2 separate regions of the Homo sapiens genome follow, and region 1 is linked to region 2. Evidence: fine-mapped expression QTL. Tissue or cell type: nasal epithelium. Region 2 holds a variant in brackets; the other region holds the start of a gene. All regions are shown on one strand. Distances are between the middles of the regions.

Region 1 (5,145 bases), 25 kb before region 2:
TTCCCCTTCCTGGTTCCCTGGATCTATAAGAATCTGAGGGATGGGGAAGGAAGGGGAGTTGGGAATGAACAACTTACACATTTTTCCGAACCTTCCCAGGCTTTCATATTGACCAAGGCTTTTGAACTTCAGAGCTGAGCATTCTATGTCTTTTTCTCTGATTATGATTCTCCTCGGGTGGGGAGACACTGACTTGTCACTTACAGTGGTGACTCATTCGATCCCTCCAATCAGCCCATGGGCAAAGGACTCCCCATCACCTTCTCACGTCCAGTTGGAGCTGGTGGCCACTTTGGCCCACCTCAGGCCATCACCCTCATGATTCAAGCAGTTAAAACTGAGGCCAGGAGAGGGCCGAGATCTGCCCAAGATCGTGGTTGAGGGCGTGTCAGTGGGAGATTCAGGCCTTGCAGCTAGACCCCAGACGACCTGCTCAGTGTACCTTCAACAGCATTAGGAAGGCAGCATTTGGGGGCCTGTGGCCTGTGCCCTGAGTTTGTTAGAAGGCAGCCCAGCTTTTTCTCAGTCACCTGCCTTCACCAGACAGCATCACCTGTGGCCCAACTGGACCTATTTCTTCTTGGGGACATCTCATAGGTATCCCCACTAACACCTCCTGTACACAATGTATATGGATTTTAATTGCGTCCCCCAGCAAATTCATGTCTACCCAGAGCCTCAGAATGTGATCTTGTTTGAAAATAGGGTCTCTGCAGATATAGTTAAGATGAGGTTCTTTGGCATCAGGGAAGGCCCTACTCCAATGACTGGTGTCCATGTAAGAAGAGAAAATAGGAACATAGACTGCTATGGTGGGAAAATTCCCAACAAATTTCATATGTTGGAAACTTAACCTCAAAATTCATATGTTGATTGGAAGTTGAGCCCTTGGGAGGTAATTAGGGTTAGGCAAGGTCATCAGGGCGGGGTCCCATGTTGAAACTGGAAACTTTATAAGAGAAGAAAGACCTGAGCTGGCACCACGCTCTTGCCCTCTCACCATGTGATGCCCTCCACGTTATGATGTAGCAAGAAAGCCCTCACCAGATGCTGGCACCTTAATATTGGACTTCCAGCCTCTAGAGCTTTAAGAAATCAATTTCTTTGTGTGTGTGTGTGTGTGTGTGTGTGTGTGTGTGTGTTTTGGTGTTTTTTTAAATTTGTTTGTTTGTTTTATTTTTGAGGCAGGGTCTCACTCTGGTTGCCCAGGCTGGAGTGCAGTGGTGCAATCATGGCTCACTACAGTCTCAACCTCCCAGGCTTGAGTGATCATCCCACCTCAGCCTCCCAAGTGGCTGGGACCACAGGTGCACACCACGGCGTGGCACCCAGCTAATTCTGTTTTATTTTTTGAAGAGACAAAGTCTTACTATGTTGCCCAGGATGGTCTTGAACTCCTACGCTCAAGCAATCCTCCCACCTTGGCTTCCCAAAGTGCTGGGATTAAAGGCATGAGCCTCCGCACCCGACCTATTTTCGTTATGAATTACCCAGTCTGAGGTATTCAGTGATAGCAACAGAAAATGTACTAAGGCATAGACACAGAGGAAAGACAGCCACGTGAGGACAGAGGCAGAGGCTGGAGAGATGCACATGCAAGCCAAGGAACACCCAGGATGGCCAGTGACCCCCAGCAGCTGGGAGAGAAGCAAAGAAAGAGTCTGCCCACAGCCCCCAGAGGGAGTGTGGCCCTGCGCACATCTTCATTTCCAACTTCTGGCCTCCAGAGCCGTGGGAGAATACATTTCTGTTGTTTGAAGCTATCCAGTTTGTGGAACTTTGTTACAGCAGCCCTGGGGAATGAATACATGGTCTTAGAGGGGAGACTTTTGGTATTCAGAAAAAGGCCTTGTCCTGTGTGAATTTCCCATCTCTTTATGGCTGCCTGAAACCCCCCCGCCCCCCTTAACATGCTTCTTTCCTTTAGAAGAAGGGACAGATCCAGGCTTCTATTCATGTGTCCCTGGAAAGTCACATTCCTCGGTTGCCTCTATCATGTCTTCAGTGCAACTGCTTCTATAGACCATGTGGCGTGGTCTCAGTGTTGGAAATGTCTCCTTCCTTCCCCCGGGGTGGGCTCCCTCCTTGGGTCTCCAGCCTCCATGCAGGACCTGGGGGAGGGGGACTGAGTGGGTGAGATCCCTCCCAGGGCAGCATTCGGCAGACCGCAAGTCAAGGTTGCAGAGTGTATGCAGCCAGGGGTAGCAGCCACTTCAGGATCTGGGTCTGGATTTGTGCTGAGAACCACTATGACCTTTTAAAGCCAGTGAGGAGGTTTTCTGGGGGCCCAGAAGCCCTGAGCCCATTGGCCAGACCTCCTGGGAGAAGCGGAGCGGATTTGCATCAAAAAGAACACTGGCTTCATTGAAATTCTCCTCATCTTGAGAGAAACAAAACCACAAAGAAAAGGAAAGTTTTAATTCTGAGAAACTTCACTGAGGAGCAATTTTTTTTGAGCTTCTAAAAATAGAGAGGAAATGAGCCTCTTTGGGTCACTCTAGTTGCCGCCTCCCCTGCCCCATGCCCACCCCCACTGCTCACTCAAGGCTAGCCTCTCTCAGTGGGTGACTGAGCTGTCTTCAGTGGAAGCCCGAGGCAGATGCCACGCAATTCTGGAGCTGGATACGGCTGCCCACACGGGGACCCCAGCATGCTGGACAGCAGAGAGACCCCACAGGAGAGCCGGCAGGACATGATTGTGAGGACCACCCAAGAAAAATTGAAAACCAGGTAAGTCATTGGTTGGGTTTCTGCACACTGCACCTGTGGGCCGAGTTCTAGACTTTGCTCTGCTGTGTGAACTTGGGCAAGCTGCTTCTCTCTCTGAGCCTCAGTTTCTTCACCTGGGAAATGAAGGGAAGGATCTGGGCGATCCGTAAGATGGAAGAACTGGTCATTTGGAGGGCTACTTAGCATGGCTAAGAAAGGCTCATCAAAGAATGAGGCACATCCCAGGGGTATGAGCTGGGGCTGCAGTTGGAGACCAGTTGGATCTCAGTTGGATGGAGGAGGAATTTTTCAGTCAAGAATGTTTCCCTGTCTCCTCAAGGGGGACTTTTGCCTGCGGGGGTCAAAGACAGATAAGTTTTGGTGGGGACCCAGAGGTTCCCGCTCCAGTTTGCTGCGTGACCTTGGCAAGTGCCTTTGCCCTCCGTGGGCTGTAGCTTCCCTGTCTGAATATGAGTGCAGTGGCTGAGGTTTCCCTAAAGCCCTTCCACTGTATATATTCCAGTAATCTGTGATTTAGAGGAAGTGGATTCAACGTATCAGGCATTCACCAATGCCCACCCTGGCCCAGGCCCTGTCCATCCAGGGAGTAGGGGATCCTGAGAAGATGAGACTCAGTCCCAGCCCTGGGATGCCCTGGCCAGAAGGCAGGAAGAAGGCAGGCGCACGCGCACACGCACACACACGGAACTCCAGGACCCCAACATCTGTGATTTGTGTCCAGGAGGGGCGCAGGCGAAGGGGCAGAGAGAAGGAGGTTTCTAACTGGGGCGCCTGAGATGGACCTTGACGGTCAGAGTGGAGCCAAGAGCAGTGGGCAGAGAGAACGACCTAACAAAGCAAGACAGGAAGTTTGGGGATGGGAGAGGTCTGGGTGGCGGAAGCATAGAACTGGGGAGGACAGGGGCTAAATACCAGGGTCCAAGTCCTCTGTAGTAATGGGGAGGAATTGCCAGTGTCTGAGCTACCAAGACTACAGCCCCTGTCCTGATGGAAGGTTATGGGGAAGGAAGATAGAGGGAAATGGGAACAGATGTTAATGCGCCTCAGAGATGCAGAGGCCCCTCCGAGGGCTGGCATCTGGGCCCTGCCCTGGGTCTCCAGAGAACCCTGCTAATCCAAAGTGGACTCCTGTTCTTCCAGAAGCAGGGACTCTTCCCTGCAAAGCCTCCAAGAGCATGAGGGCAAGCCCCTCCCTGGGCATAGGTCAGGTGCACAGAGGGTCAAGGGCCCCTGGAAGAAAGCTGGACTGACTTCCTCACCCAAGGGCAGATTCAGGATCTCCTCTGGGCCCCGGTGTCCTGGCACCTCCCCTCCTCCCTGGGGTCTGTGGGCTCAGAGAGCAGGAAGGCCAGGCGAGATGCTCAGAGGAGCACATCGAAATATGTCCAGAGGCCATGCATGATGGCTCATGCCTGTAATCCCAGCACTTTGGGAGGCTGAGTCGGGTGGATCACCCAAGGTCAGGAGTTCTGAGACCAGCCTGCCCAATGTGATGAAACTCTGTCTCTACTAAAAATACAAACAGCCAGGTGGTGGTACGTGCCTGTAATCCCAGCTACTCAGGAGGCTGAGGCAGGAGAATTGCTTGAACCCGGGAGGTGGAAATTGCAGTGAGTCAAGATCGTGCCACTGCACTCCAGCCTGGGCCACGAGAGCAAAAGTCCTTCTCAAAAAAAAAAAAAAGAAGAAAAAGAAATAAATGTGCCCAGAGCAGGGGTAGACAGGCATGAGGACAGCCAGGGCCAGGGGAGTCTTTGAAAACAAAATCAAGGTCTGCAGGATCTCAGGGTCTTCTGCTCCCTGTGAGTGAGGGGCCAAGTGGGGCTCAGGGCCACAGGAGCCTGTGTCTCAGGCCTGTGGTGAAAAGGGGTGGCAGAGGGTCCTGTGTGCCCTGCAAAGCTCACAGAGGACTGGGCTTGTTTTGCAGACATCACTGAAGGAAAGTAGGCAAACTTGAGGCAGAACCCTAGGCTTGTGCAGAGAAGGACTCCCTCCTGAAAGGGTAAATGGGTCTTGGGACCCCGTAGGGAAAGAGAAAGGCTAAAAACCCAAGAGTTGGAGTGTCAGTTCTACTACTTTCTTGCTGAGTGACTTTGGATACATTGTTTAACCTTTCTGAGCCTCAATAGCATCCTCTGTACAAATAAATATACAACGCCTGAACTTCATTGACATTGCAGAAAAATTGGGTGGATTCCATCAGCTAATGTGTATGAAAATGTTTTCAAAGCATAAGAGTTACCCATCACAGGCATAGTAACTCTCATAGCAACACTCTTAGCAGCAGGCTGGAGGTCACATGCCTTGGGTTCCAGTCCAGCTCTGCTCCTAACCCATTCTGTGACCCTTGGCAAGATACCTTCTCTGAGCCTCAGTTTCCCCATCTGTCAAACAGGGAAGCTAAACCTGCTCTGA
Region 2 (5,145 bases):
GCTGTCAAGCCATGTGTGACCATCAAAGCCCAAACCTGAGTATCCAAGGGCCACAGGGGTGAGAGGGTGTTGGGGAAATCTAGGAGGGCTTCCTGCAGGAGGAGTTGAAGGAGGCTTGGGAGGCTCTGTGTGCAAATGGTTCCCATCAGCTCCTCTGGCAAGGTAGAAGGAGTAAGGAGACACCAATCCACCAAGAGATGGTTAAGAGAAAGGCGCAGTGCAGACGCTCCCAGGCTCCTCTGCCCCCCACACATCTTACATCATATTTGCTCAAACACGCCCTTTGTTTTCTTGTTCCCATGCTGCTGGGTAGCTGCTGATAAAGTGTTTTTGTTTTCTGTGAAAGGAGAGCAAGGCGATGAGCTTAAAGTGTGCTTATGTGAGCTGAGGTCAGAGAATGAATCCTTGTTCTCGTCCTCAAAGACGAGTGAAAAGGGCCAACCTTGTAAGCTCTTCTTCCTCCTGGGAATTCAAAATGCAGACAGAAGCCAGTCAGCCTCCTCAGGCCGTTCTTCCACCATTATTGTCATTAATCATGTTAGGTGACTTCCGCCAACCTCTGGAGTATTGCCTTCCAGAAGGAGCATAATTTTCCAGAATGACAGGAATAATATGTTAATCGCCTTCGGCGTGCTCATGATGATCACAATGACAGTAATATCAACTCACCTGTAGGATCATTTACAGCCACCTGTCCTTCCTGGAATAGCAGCAAGAATCAGGAGAAGGGCCCAAAATGCTTTTGAGGAGTTAAGACAGAGTAGGGGCAGCTTCCCAAACCTTAGCTTCTTTTCTTCAAAGAAAACATGATAGGTTCCATTGTGGAACTTGTCCCCCAATGTAACCTAAGTTCTAACGAGCTTGGCTGTTTTGTTTTCTATTCTGCTACAAAAAGAAATGGCAATGTAGGAGTGAGATGAATTGCTAGAAGCCAGCACACTGAAAGTAGCAAGAAGTGACTGCTAGTCACAGAGGAGAGGATTAAAAACTAAAAAATGGCCGAGCATGGTGACTTGCGCCTATAATCCCAGTACTTTAGGAGGCCAAGGCTAGAGGATCGCTTGAGCCCAGGAGTTGGAGACCAGGCCTGGCAACATAGCAAGACCCTGTCTCTACAAAAAATACAAAAATTAGCCAGGTTTTGTGGTGCTGTCCTGTAGTCCCAGCTACTCAGGAAGCTGAGATGAGAGGATTGCTTGAGCCTAGGAGTTTGAGGTTGCAGTGAGTGGTGATTGTGCCCCTGCACTCCAGCCTGGGTAACAGAGCAAGGCCCTGTCTGCAAAATATAAATAAATACATACATACAAAATAAAAACTGAAAGACGACCATTACGAACAACAACGAGTGTGAGACAGCACTCACAATGAGGAGAGGCAGATGGCCCGAGCAGTTTCACTTGTTTCTGTGTGACAAGTCAGGTCAGGAAAGCCTGTTACTGGTTATAACTCTGTGTGAGCAGGAAGTTACTGGAGGTTTAGCACATTCTATTTCGGATGACATCTCTTCAAAGGGACCACCTCTCAAAGCCCCTAGTGAGGAAAAGATCAGGCTTAATTCATTTGGAGAATTAGGTTTTGACATTCTTTTAATCATGCGCCCCAAATTCTGTAAGCATAGGGCATAGAGAGTTGAATCAGTGCCTTGAGCCAGCCACAGGGATAAGGAAGGTGTTCTTGTTAAACTGATGCTGGCAGAGGGCCACGGTCCACCCTCTCATTGACCATGGTTGCTGGACAAGATCAGTGTCTGAGCAACAAGAAATTTGACACTGCACTGGGTGCTGCCCCTCCAGGAAAAGGCACCCACCCGCAGCAAGAAGGTGCTGCCAACAGCCTCATCGTCCCTATAAACAGAAGGTTCTAATCACGATAAGTACGCTTGACCCTTGGCTTCCTTTGGTGGCTGTCTTTTCATTTAGTCTTTGTGTAGCTATTTTAAAACCAGAACCAGTTTACACTAATTTTCTGTGGGGAGAGAAGTGCTGCCCATACCTTTTGATTAGGAGGATTTAAAAACAGGTTTGTTTGTGAGGAAGCAGTTCAGATGGTGGGACATTACAGCCAAGGACAGCCTCCTGCCTGGCTAATGTGGAGGTGGCCGCCCAGCTGGTGATCTCAGAGGCTGATTAGAGCTGCTAACTCTAACCTGGGGTGCTGTCCACCGTCCTCTGAGAACACAGGCTGAGATGGGGCAGGGACATCAACCAAGTTCACAGTCTTCCCCAGATGATCACAGTGCAGGCCTCTGAGCCTAGCAGTGTACGTGTCCCTCGTTTGCCGT[C/T]GCTGCCTGAACCCAGAGCTCAGGGGCCATTTGGTAACATTGCGGCCCAAAGTGGAGGCAGCTTCTACCTGGCTATCCCAGAGAGCTGTAACCAAGGATCCAAAGTCAGTAGGACGAGTTCTGCAGCATTCACACGCCTCTGTCTGCCCGGCACAGGAGGCCTCGCCCCGGAAGCACACGTTGCCATCTCTTCAGTTTTTCCACAACCTCCCTGGAGTGGGTCGCCATAGCAATGGAAGGGCTGCTCCAGGCCTGTGGCCCAGGCCTTGCTCACAAATTTCGCAAGAACGGCGCCACCTTGGTTCCCCAGTCATCCCCCTTCTCCCCGTCCCCCTCCCTTCATAACCTTCTGATATCTTTCGCTTTAAAACCTATCTCAGGTTCTTAAGCAGATGGCTGCCAGGTGGGCCTAGGTGTGTTCACAAACTTAGTTTTGTTCGGAACCTGCAGTGCCGACAAGGAGTGAGGCTGAATGTGAGAAGCAGGTAATTGGCCCGGCTTCCTGGGAACTGGGCAGGGATGGGGCTAGCCCCACCCTAACTGACAGACAGGGCTCCCTGGAGCCAGGGTCCTACCCTCAGGGACACCATGACCAGCTGCACAGGTTGCATGCTGCACAACTCCAGTGGATTCTGTTTACGTAGTTGTTGACTGTGAAATGTGTCTCTGGAGTTCTATAATCCTGTTGCAGTCCTAAAGTGTGTACTGAAATCCAGCTGCTCAGCCATCTAGGAGGTTGAGGTCTGGCCAGGTGAACTCTGAGGAAAAATGGTGCTGAAGGGCAGTCAGGCTGAAAGGATAATGAAAGCCCAGAAACCCATGAAACTTGGGTTGGCCAGAAGGGGAGACCCTTTAGCCAGGGTCACCGAGCCTGGGAGGCGAGGGGGATCTGGGTCAGGCCCTGGGCCTCAGGTCTCCCTGGACCCGTCTATGTCTGTCTTCTCCATGGAGTGAACAGACATGGGGTGCATGGTGCACCCACAAGCACATGGAAGAGGGGAGGCCCTCACTGGGGGGCCGGAATAGGACCCCTGAGAGCCCTATGAGTACCTGCAGCTCCACTCAGTTTCTGGGCATGGCTGGGGACTGGTGGGTACAGGGAGTGACAGATGGGGGAACCCCCGCCCCAAAAGTCTGCCCTCTCCAGGAGTGGCATTCAGAATCCTCCAGTGCGGACCTTAGCCCCGTCCTCATCCAGGTGGGGTGCTGAGACCCCGAGAGAGGCATGAACTTGCCCAGGGTCACACCACAAAGTAGAGCACAGAAGGCCTTGAATTCCCTTTCTCCTGAGCCCTTAGAGCCTGGAGGGAGGCTGGGTGGGGGCAGGGTCAGCCCCTACAACCACTGAGGTCTTGTCCCCTGACTCCCACTGGGTTCTCCTCTGTGGATGGCCCCAGCATTTGCAGGAGACAGAGGTGCCAGTGTCCCCCTGGGGGTGCTGAGATGTGTGCCAGGCCGGAGTCCCTAAGCCCAGGCCGGTCCCCCACGTTCTAATGAATGTTTTTCCTGGTCCCCTCACCACCCCAGCTCACTGACTGACAGGCAGCCACTCTCCAAAGAGTCCCTGAACCATGCTCTCGAGCTCTCAGTGCCAGAGAAGGTGAATAATGCCCAGTGGGATGCTCCAGGTAAGCCAGCTGGGGGTGGTAGGGTGGGGCAGGGCGGGAAACTGTGCTGTGCTGGGTGTGCTGGAGGGGTGGGTGGTGTGGGGGACCACCACACAGAACTGCGGGAAGGAGCAGCTGGGGATCTTGCTGGTTCCACGCTCCCAGGGACCCCACCAAGCCCCTTCCTTCATGGCTGCCATCAGGGCCAGGCGTGATGGAAAGGAATGAGGGATGGGGAGATTTCTTCTTCAAGAAAGCTGGGAAGAAGAGAGGCCAGAGATAGAGAGACAGGTAGGACATCATCTGGGCCCAGGCCTTGGGAACTTGGGGCTCCAGCAAAGGGTTGCTGAGGGACAGGAGAAAGCCCAGATAAGCAATGCCTTGGGATTTTTGGCCTGGTTAACTGGGGCAAGGGGCAGGCAGACGGGTGCAGGCTAGAAAGGTTTGTTTTGGAGGCTTGAAACATTACATGTTATCTTCTTGATCTCCACCATCAAATAATTGTGCCTTAAGGAAGGCAGAGTTATTTACTCTGACTCTGAAGAGTCATCAAAATGATAATAATAATAATAATACATCTTTTGTGCACTTTTATTGGCTGCACAACAACATTGTAGCAACAACAGAAATTTAAAAACAAAAAGAAAACAATAGATACCCAGCACAGAGGGTCACTGCTGCCAGACCAGCTGCCGCTCTCCCAGGCCGAGTGTCTTGGGTGGCTTTGGCAGGGATCTGGCCTGAGCTGTGGGGGTGGGTGTTTCCTCTCATGCCCCCTGCCCTCACCTCAGAGATAAAGGAGAAGGGACTGGGCCAAGAAGAGGACCAACTGGTTTCTGAGAATGGTTTGAAAGACACCGGAGAGAGGCCAGGAACAGGGACAGCTTGGTCCCGGGAGCCTCCCACGTTCATCCTCCCAGGATTCCAAGGCATCTTGCTGACTTGCTGAGCCACCTAGGGCAGGTCCCACCAACTGGCTTAGGCTCAGACACCCCAGACTTTATAATCCCTTCTCTGGGGTGCTCAAAGAGCAGGTGTTGGCACCAGGGGCCTGGGCCACAGCAAAACCGTGGAGCTCAGCAAGTCCTGAGTATGAGTGATGGCACAGGCATTCCTGCAATTCAAGGGGCAGGAAGGGAGCCATTTGTGGGGGAGGCTCCGTGTCCCTTGGAGCCCCAGAAAAGCATCTGGCATCCCGAGGGAGAAACACATAATCCCCAGCCCTGCGGGCCTCAATGGCTTCATCTGAATGGCTGT

The links. PIP is the estimated chance that this variant, and not a neighbour inherited with it, causes the effect.
Region 1: ACSBG1 starts here. The variant in region 2 is fine-mapped to the expression of ACSBG1 in nasal epithelium (TOPMed, PIP 0.98).

What each region holds. Positions count from the first base shown.
Region 1 is chr15:78,231,956-78,237,100 of GRCh38, reverse strand. ACSBG1 (acyl-CoA synthetase bubblegum family member 1) reads left to right here and starts at 2,536. Exons shown (of 14, transcript NM_015162.5): 1 at 2,536-2,730. The coding sequence starts at 2,600.
Region 2 is chr15:78,206,766-78,211,910 of GRCh38, reverse strand. ACSBG1 (acyl-CoA synthetase bubblegum family member 1) reads left to right here. Exons shown (of 14, transcript NM_015162.5): 2 at 3,809-3,909. Among named protein-coding and RNA genes, the nearest start is that of ACSBG1, 25 kb to the left of the region's middle. RefSeq lists an enhancer at 3,459-3,970. The variant C/T (reference allele first, on the strand shown) is at 2,282.